Linked DNA regions of Homo sapiens: region 2 is linked to region 1. Evidence: fine-mapped expression QTL. Tissue or cell type: whole blood. Region 1 holds a variant in brackets; the other region holds the start of a gene. All regions are shown on one strand. Distances are from middle to middle.

Evidence for each region. PIP is the estimated chance that this variant, and not a neighbour inherited with it, causes the effect.
Region 2: it holds the start of CIITA, and the variant in region 1 is fine-mapped to the expression of CIITA in whole blood (TOPMed, PIP above 0.99).

Annotation. Positions count from the first base shown.
Region 1 is chr16:10,910,812-10,914,811 of GRCh38, forward strand. All of the region lies in intron 13 of CIITA (class II major histocompatibility complex transactivator), which reads left to right. Among named protein-coding and RNA genes, the nearest start is that of DEXI, 30 kb to the right of the region's middle. RefSeq lists an enhancer at 1,597-1,646. The variant A/G (reference allele first, on the strand shown) is at 1,875.
Region 2 is chr16:10,875,691-10,879,690 of GRCh38, forward strand. It overlaps CIITA (class II major histocompatibility complex transactivator), which reads left to right and starts at 1,512. Exons shown (of 20, transcript NM_000246.4): 1 at 1,512-1,692. The coding sequence starts at 1,641. RefSeq lists enhancers at 1,126-1,205, 1,536-1,605, 1,646-1,725, 1,766-1,815, 3,236-3,285 and 1 more.

The DNA of each region.
Region 1 (4,000 bases):
TTGTTTACTTCCACAGCCAAGGGATGGCCTCCCCAGGGAGAATCTTTCCCCCATTTTGAAATTCCCAGGAGCTTTTGATGTGCAGCTAGGATGAAAAAGCAACCCTACTTGCCTGGGACTATCCTGGTTTGAAAACTGAAAGTCTTGCATCCCAAGAAGCCCCTTAGTCCCAGGCAAACTGGGACAGTTGGTTGCTCTATGTGTGGCCAGGGCTGGGGGCCACACCCTAGGCAGTGTTGCTGGGGTGACAGAAATGGAGACCTAGGCAAGGCTCTAGGGAGTCCAGTTGTGTCTGGGTCACTGAGGAGGGGCAGCCCACCATACATGGGCCCCAAGAAAGCACAATAATTATTATATTTAGATCTGTCAGAATATAGCTTTTCTTTCTTTCTTTCCTTTCTTCTCTCTTTCTTTTTCTTTCTTTCTTCTTTCTTTCTTTCTCTCTTTCTTTCCTCTTTCTTTCCTTTCCCTTCCTTTTCTTTCCTTCCCTCCCTCCCTCCTTCCTTCCTTCCCTCCCTCCCTTCTTCCCCCTTTTCTTCTTTTTCTTTCTCTCTGTTTCTTTCTTTCTTTCTCTCTCTCTCTCCCTTCCTTCCTCCCTCCCTATCTCTCTCTTTCTTTCTTTCTTTCCTTCTTTTCTTTCTTTCCTTTCTCTCCTTTCTCTTTCTTTCTTTCCATTCTCTTTCTTTCTCTTTCCTTCCCTCCCTTCCTTCTCTTCCTTCCTTCTTTTTCCTTTCCTTTTCTTTCCTTTTCTTTTCTTTCTTGAGGCAGAGTCTTACTCTGTCCCTCAGGCTGGAGTTCAGTGGCACAATCACAGCTCACCACAGCCTCAACCTCCCTAGGCTCAAGTGATCCTCCCACCTCAGCCTCCCTAGTAGCTGGGACTACAGGCATGCCCCACCTGACTAATTTTTGTATTTTTTGTAGAGACAGGATTTCACCATGTTGCCCAGTCTGGTCTCGAGCTCCTGGGCTCAAGCAATCCTCCCACCTCAGCCTCCCAAAGTGCTAGGATTACAGGTGCGAGCTCCCGCACCTGGCCAGAACAGGCTTTTAAATTTGCAGCTCACCTTCCATCTCAATTATCTCAGGCCACCCTCCTCTACAGGCATTGTCATCATCTCCCCATTGTACAAATGGCAATGCTGAGAACAAGAGACTTTAAATTGTTTATCCAAAGTCATAAAGGTCAGGTCAGCCTGGCCCTAAGCTCCTTCCACAGAAAAAGCTAAATGAATGTTTGTTCCTTGGTAGGGGTCTAGATCATCTAATGATTAGGAAGGAGTTGTTATGCCTGTGGTATATTCGGTGCTGTTTTTTTTTGGAGATGGGGTCTTGCTCTGTCACCCAGGCTAGAATGCAGTGGTATGATCTTGGCTCACTGCAATCTCCACCTCTCGGTTCAAGCAATTTTCCTGCCTCAGCCTCCCGAGTAGCTGGGATTACAGGTGTACACCACTACACCTGGCTAATTTTTGTATTTTTAGTAGAGACGGGCTTTAACCATGTTGGCCAGGCTGGTCTTGAACTCCTGGCCTCAGATGTTCCTCCCACCTCAGCCTCCCAAAGTGCTGGGATTACAGGTGTAAGCCACCATGCCCAGCTTATAATTCAGTGCATTTTATATATAATCTCATTAATCTCAAGAGCTACTGTGGAAGACAGACAGTCATCATCTTCCCCATTTTACAGATGAGGAGACGGAGGCCTGGTGAGGTTAAGTGACTTGCCCGTGGTCCCCCAGCTGGTCACCCACAAGCTATCAGCTCTCCCTGATCACTGCTCCCCTGTGCCCCAGAAAAAAGCCAGTGTCTCTTGTTTTGAACAGAGACAAGGTGCTAAATTTGTCCAGAGGTAAAAATGATGCTGAAAAGGGG[A/G]AATGTCTGAAAACAATAACTGAGGGCCCTTTCTGGCCTTAAATTATTTTCAGCTGAAAAAGCCCCTAGTTCAAGATCGGAACTGCGCTCTGGGGAACAGCGGCCATGGGGTGGAACAGCCTAGAGCCGGGTGATCAGCCACCTGGAGACCGGAAGCCCCCGAGGAGGTTCTGAGGAAGGAAGGAAGGAAGGAAAAGACTATTTCTGGCATTTTCTCAGGCTTCTACTGTGCCCAGGCACCCTGTAGACCTCATCTGTCTGTCAAATCAGGGTTCTTAGCCACTCACAACCCTACAGGGACTTCGTTTGTACACAGAGTCCTTCCCCAGTTCAGTCCCCACTCACCTGTTCACCCTTATCTCCTACACTCGCTGGGTGCTCTCTCCATTCCAGCCACAGGGCCTCCTTGCTGGCTTTCAACCTCCTAGGCATGCTTCTGCCTCCAGGCCTTTGCACCGGCTGTGCCCTCTGCCTGGAATACTTCTCCCCAGATATCTGCATGGCTCATGCCTTCACCTCCTCTGGTCTTTACTCAGTGAGGCCTTTTCTTTTCTTTCTTTCCCTGTTTCTTTCTTTCTTTCTTTCCCTCCTTTCTTTCTTTCTTTCCCTTTCTTTCTTTCTTTTTCCTTTTTTCTTTTTCTTTTTTTGAGGTGGAGTCTCGCTCTGTCACCCAGGCTGGAGTGCAGTGGCACAATCTCGACTCACTGCAACCTCCTCCTCCCAAGTCCAAGTGATTCTCTTGCCTCAGCCTCCCGAGTAGCTGGGACTACAGGCACATGTCACCACATCTGGCTAATTTTTTGTATTTTTAGTAGAGACGGGGTTTCACCGTGTTAGCCAGGATGGTCTCAATCTTCTGACCTCGTGATCCCCCCACCTCGGCCTCCCAAAGTGCTGGGATTACAGGCGTGAGCCACCACACCCGGCCTCAGTGAGGTCTTTTCTGACCCTCACAGTTAAAAATAAAACTCTGGCCAGGCGCAGTGGCTTATGCCTGTAATCCCAGCACTTTGGGAGGCCGAGGCAGGTGGATCACAAGGCCAGGAGTTTGAGACCAGCCTGGCCAACATAGTGAAACCCCATCTCTACTAAATATACAAAACAAATTAGCTGGGCATGGTGGCAGGTGCCTGTAGTCACAGCTACTTGGGAGGCTGAGGCAGGAGAATCATTTGAAACCGGGAGGCGGAGGTTGCGGTGAGCTGAGATCACGCCACTGCAGTCCAGCTTGGATGACAGAGTGAGACCCCATCTCAAAAATAAATAAATAAATAAATAAATAGAACTCCATTCCCCTCATGGTTAAAAAAAAAACTCCATCCCCCTCACCACTGTATATTTCCATATGATTCATTGTCTCAGACATCAGCTTGCTTTCCGATTTCTTTGATTATCTGTCTATCTTCCCCCCTGGAATGTCAGCACCCAGAAGGCAGGGATTTTCGTCTGTTTGGCCCACAACTTTCCTCCCTGGGCCTGGCACATAGTAGGCAAGCGGTCAATATTTAACAACGAATGCCTTAATCCAAGAACCCCCATAAGATTGGGGTGAAATATTTGAGGAGATCAAGACTTAAGGGTGAAGGGATTTGCCAAGGCCTTTAGCAGGGAGCCAAATGCCAGATCCTGGAGTCAAACTCTGATCCTGTGGCCTTTTGCTGAGGCCAGTGTTCTCAGACTTCAGGATTTCAGAGGCCGAGAACATTTCGGAATGAATTCGAGTGACCGTGCGCGGTTACTGTTTTTTAATGTTTATCAAGGATGCTCATTCAAACAAACAAATAACAACAAAATACCCACTGCTGGCACCATAATTTTACCAAAGAATGATCATTCTAATATTGAAAAAGTTCAAAGGACATAATTGCAGAATAAAAGACAGCTCTTTATATGGAATGCATTTAACCATATTTTTAAACTAAACGGCCCTTCGTTGTCCTTATTTTTCTCATCCCCTTGAAGTCTGCTCTAAATGTTGATCCAGGCTGTGTGACCCTGTGTGAGCTATTTGATCGCCTAGTGCCTCAGTTTCCCTATATGTAAAATGGAGATAAGAGCCCATAGCTCAGAGTCTTGAGGAGTAAATGAGATCTAGGCCGAGGGAAGGGCCTAGCATGCCCCTGGCT
Region 2 (4,000 bases), 35 kb before region 1:
AGGCAGGATCTCACTCTGTTGCCCAGGCTGGAGTGTATTTCATGATCATAGCTCACTGCAGCCTCCAACTCCTGGGCACACTCGATCCTCCCACTTCAGCCTCCAGAGTAGCTGGGACTATAGTTGTGCACCATCATACATGGCTAATTTTTAAAAAATCATTTGTAGAAAAATTAGCTGGATGTAGGAGAATGGCGTGAACCCAGGAGGCGGAGCTTGCAGTGAGCCAAGATAGCGCCACTGCAGTCCAGCCTGGGCGAAAGAGCGCGACTCCGTCTCAAAAAAAGAAAAAAAGAAAAGAAAAGAAAAATTAGCTGGACATAGTGGCAGGTGCCTGTAATCCCAGCTGCTCGGGAGGCTGAGGCAGGAGAATCAGTTGAACCCAGAACCCGGGAGGCGGAGGTTGCAGCGAGCCAAGATCATGCCATTGCACTCTAGCCTGGCAATAAGAGTGAAACTCCGTCTAAAAAAAAACAAAAACAAACAAAAAAAACCCCAACAATTTGTAGACATAGGGTGTCACTATGTTGCCCAGGCTAGCCTCCAACTCCCGGCTTCAAGCAATCCTCCTGCTTCGGCCTCCCAAAATGTTGGAATTACAGGCACAAGCCACCTGGCCCAGCCATCTACTTTATATTCAAATAAAACTTTACGTCCCATTATAAAGGGAAAAAATGGCAAAAACAGGAGGTAACCATTTAACAAGAAAGCAGAGTGATGTTAGATTATAGCAAGATACTGTTGACTGTAGAAGGCTCTGAGGCTAGAGAGCTGCTTTCTATAAAACAGAGTGATCATATATTAGAAGAGGTGTTAAAGACATGTTCACACCAAGCTGAGACTTCCTCCTTGATACCACCAGGAGGATGGGCAGAGACTGGAAAAGACACTAACTTTCTCCCTATGGGAGTCAGTATTATTTAGCATCACTTTGGCGGGTCACCCCAAACCATCTGACTACAAGGGTACCATATTTGGGTTAACACTCTTTTGGTATAATTTATGTTTTAGTCCAATGTCTTGGGATGAAAATGACAGGTGGGCCACTTATGATCTCCAGAGAAATTCAGGGCAATTTGGTGTGGGAGTAGGCATGGTAGAGGAGAGCAGCATCTAAGAAGTCCCCAGCAGAGGCTCTCAGCTTGTCTTGAGGCATCTGGGCGGAGGGCTATGATACTGGCCCCATCCTGCAGAAGGTGGCAGATATTGGCAGCTGGCACCAGTGCGGTTCCATTGTGATCATCATTTCTGAACGTCAGACTGTTGAAGGTTCCCCCAACAGACTTTCTGTGCAACTTTCTGTCTTCACCAAATTCAGTCCACAGTAAGGAAGTGAAATTAATTTCAGAGGTGTGGGGAGGGCTTAAGGGAGTGTGGTAAAATTAGAGGGTGTTCAGAAACAGAAATCTGACCGCTTGGGGCCACCTTGCAGGGAGAGTTTTTTTGATGATCCCTCACTTGTTTCTTTGCATGTTGGCTTAGCTTGGCGGGCTCCCAACTGGTGACTGGTTAGTGATGAGGCTAGTGATGAGGCTGTGTGCTTCTGAGCTGGGCATCCGAAGGCATCCTTGGGGAAGCTGAGGGCACGAGGAGGGGCTGCCAGACTCCGGGAGCTGCTGCCTGGCTGGGATTCCTACACAATGCGTTGCCTGGCTCCACGCCCTGCTGGGTCCTACCTGTCAGAGCCCCAAGGTAAAAAGGCCGGGAAAGCATCTTAATTTAGCGTGCAGTCTCAGCTGGTCCTGCCATTCCAGATAAACAGAGAAACCATTCTGAATTGGGGATGGGGGTGAGGATGGGAACAGGAGTCTGTGTCCTGCTGGGGCAGGCCATTGGAAGATGTGAAAGAGTTGTCTATTTCCTTCCACCGGAGGGAGACTTCAGGTCAGCCAGGTGTCTGGAGTATGAACCATGTATCAGCACCGAAAGGTTCTAGAAGTCAGACTTTCGGGCAGTGTGTCACTAACTCTCAGCATGCTGGCCTGGCTCGGCCCACAGCAAGGTCTTCTCGCCTCCCTTTGGGTAAATACTGAGGGGTGCCTCTGCAGGACGGGACCTCTGCCAGACTCCACTCCATACCCAGAGAAGCAGGGAAACCAAAATTGGAGTCAGCCTTGAGGTGTAGCTGTTGAGCCCTCAGCAGCTGGGGAGAGCTGGCGGATGCTGCCCTCCCCCCAGTTTCCTAATGGTGTTGTTTAAAAAGGGTCAGGGGACGGGGGAACAGATGGTGGGAAGAGCACAGTGCAGACACCTGGCACCGGCTCTGAAGGCAGCATGGCAGCTACACCGTTGGCTGGGAAGGGTGTGCCCCTGAAGAAGTCGTTTACATTCTCGAGTCAATTTTCCTGGAGTGTACAATGGACCTGTGGGAAAGCCTGTATGAAAGGGTAATGATGAGGGACCTAGCACAGTGTCCAATATTTTATAGGAACTGGAATTGAGCTCATAGGAGCTCAATTTTATTGGCATTGCTGTTGTTGGATGGTTAAAGGGGTGGTATCCCTTTTCTCAGACTCCCCTGAAATGTATGGTTTGCTTTGAACCCAGAGACTGATGACAGGTCTGCCGGTGTGGTTGGGTGCAGCCTTAAGTTGCTACGGGAAAGTGTTGGAGGGGGAGAAGTCAGAGGTAACCTTGCCCCCTCCCTCAATTCCAGATGAGGAAATTCAGGCCTGAAAAGGGAAAGTGACCACCTCAAAGTCTCATGCCTTGGAGGACCCAGCAGGAATCCAAGACCTCTGAAAAGGACCGGCAGGGCTCTTGCCACGGCTGGGGGTGTGGTCATGGTAACACAGGTTTTCCATCCATGGAAGGTACCTGAGGGATTTTCTCTTCCTCCCTAGGGCCAGCATCAGAGGAGTGAATAGCTCAGTTAGCTCATCTCAGGGGCCATGTGCCCTCGGAGGTGGTTTGCCACTTTCACGGTTGGACTGAGTTGGAGAGAAACAGAGACCCACCCAGGGGTGGGGACAAGCTCCCTGCAACTCAGGACTTGCAGATCACTTGCCCAAGTGGCTCCCTAGCTCCTGGCTCCTGGCCCGGGGCCTGGGACTCTCCCCGAAGTGGGGCTGGCCACTGTGAGGAACCGACTGGAGGCAGGGACCTCTTGGATGCCCCAGGCAGTTGGGATGCCACTTCTGATAAAGCACGTGGTGGCCACAGTAGGTGCTTGGTTGCTCCACAGCCTGGCCCGAGCTCAGCGCTGCAGAAAGAAAGTGAAAGGGAAAAAGAACTGCGGGGAGGCGGGGAGGTAGGATGACCAGCGGACGAGCTGCCACAGACTTGCCGCGGCCCCAGAGCTGGCGGGAGGGAGAGGCCACCAGCAGCGCGCGCGGGAGCCCGGGGAACAGCGGTAGGTGACCAAAGTCTCCTCTGTAACCCCTAAGGTCGGGCTGAGAATCGAGGCTCCGAGACTGTCAGCTACTTGCTCAAGGTCACACAGCAAGTCTGGGAGGATGGGGGGATGGAATATGCAAAATGTAGGGCCGGGAAACACCTCGTTTCCAGCATCCCCGCAACGACTCTGCGCGGGAACCAGGAGCCGGGAACCCGGAGCTTGGCTTGCTGTGCCCAGAGCTCCGGGGCCGTGGGCGGGTGGCAGGAAAGCCTGGCGGCAGCTTCTGCAGAGAAGCCGGAGCGCAGACTGGGAGCGCGGAGCAGACACACTCCCCCGGCCACCCTTGGCCGACTCCGCGCGCCCGGGATCCTGCAGAGGTGCGCGCCCTTCTTGTACGCCAGACTTTGGACCAGGGCCGCCGTTCCCTGAGCTTCACTTTCCCTGTTGGGTCATATTCCATCTCTAACTCTGGAATCTTGGGTATTGGGCTCTCCAGGCGGGGGGCCCTGCTCAGGGAGGCAGTAGGGAGCCAAACCTTTAACCAGAGGATGGGATAAGTCCTCAACTCTCGTTGAACATCTTGGCGAAGGTGTGTGTTGTTGGGAGGGGTGGGGGAGGGATCCCCCCGGACTGAACCGATCTCTTGATCTCTCACTTCTCTAC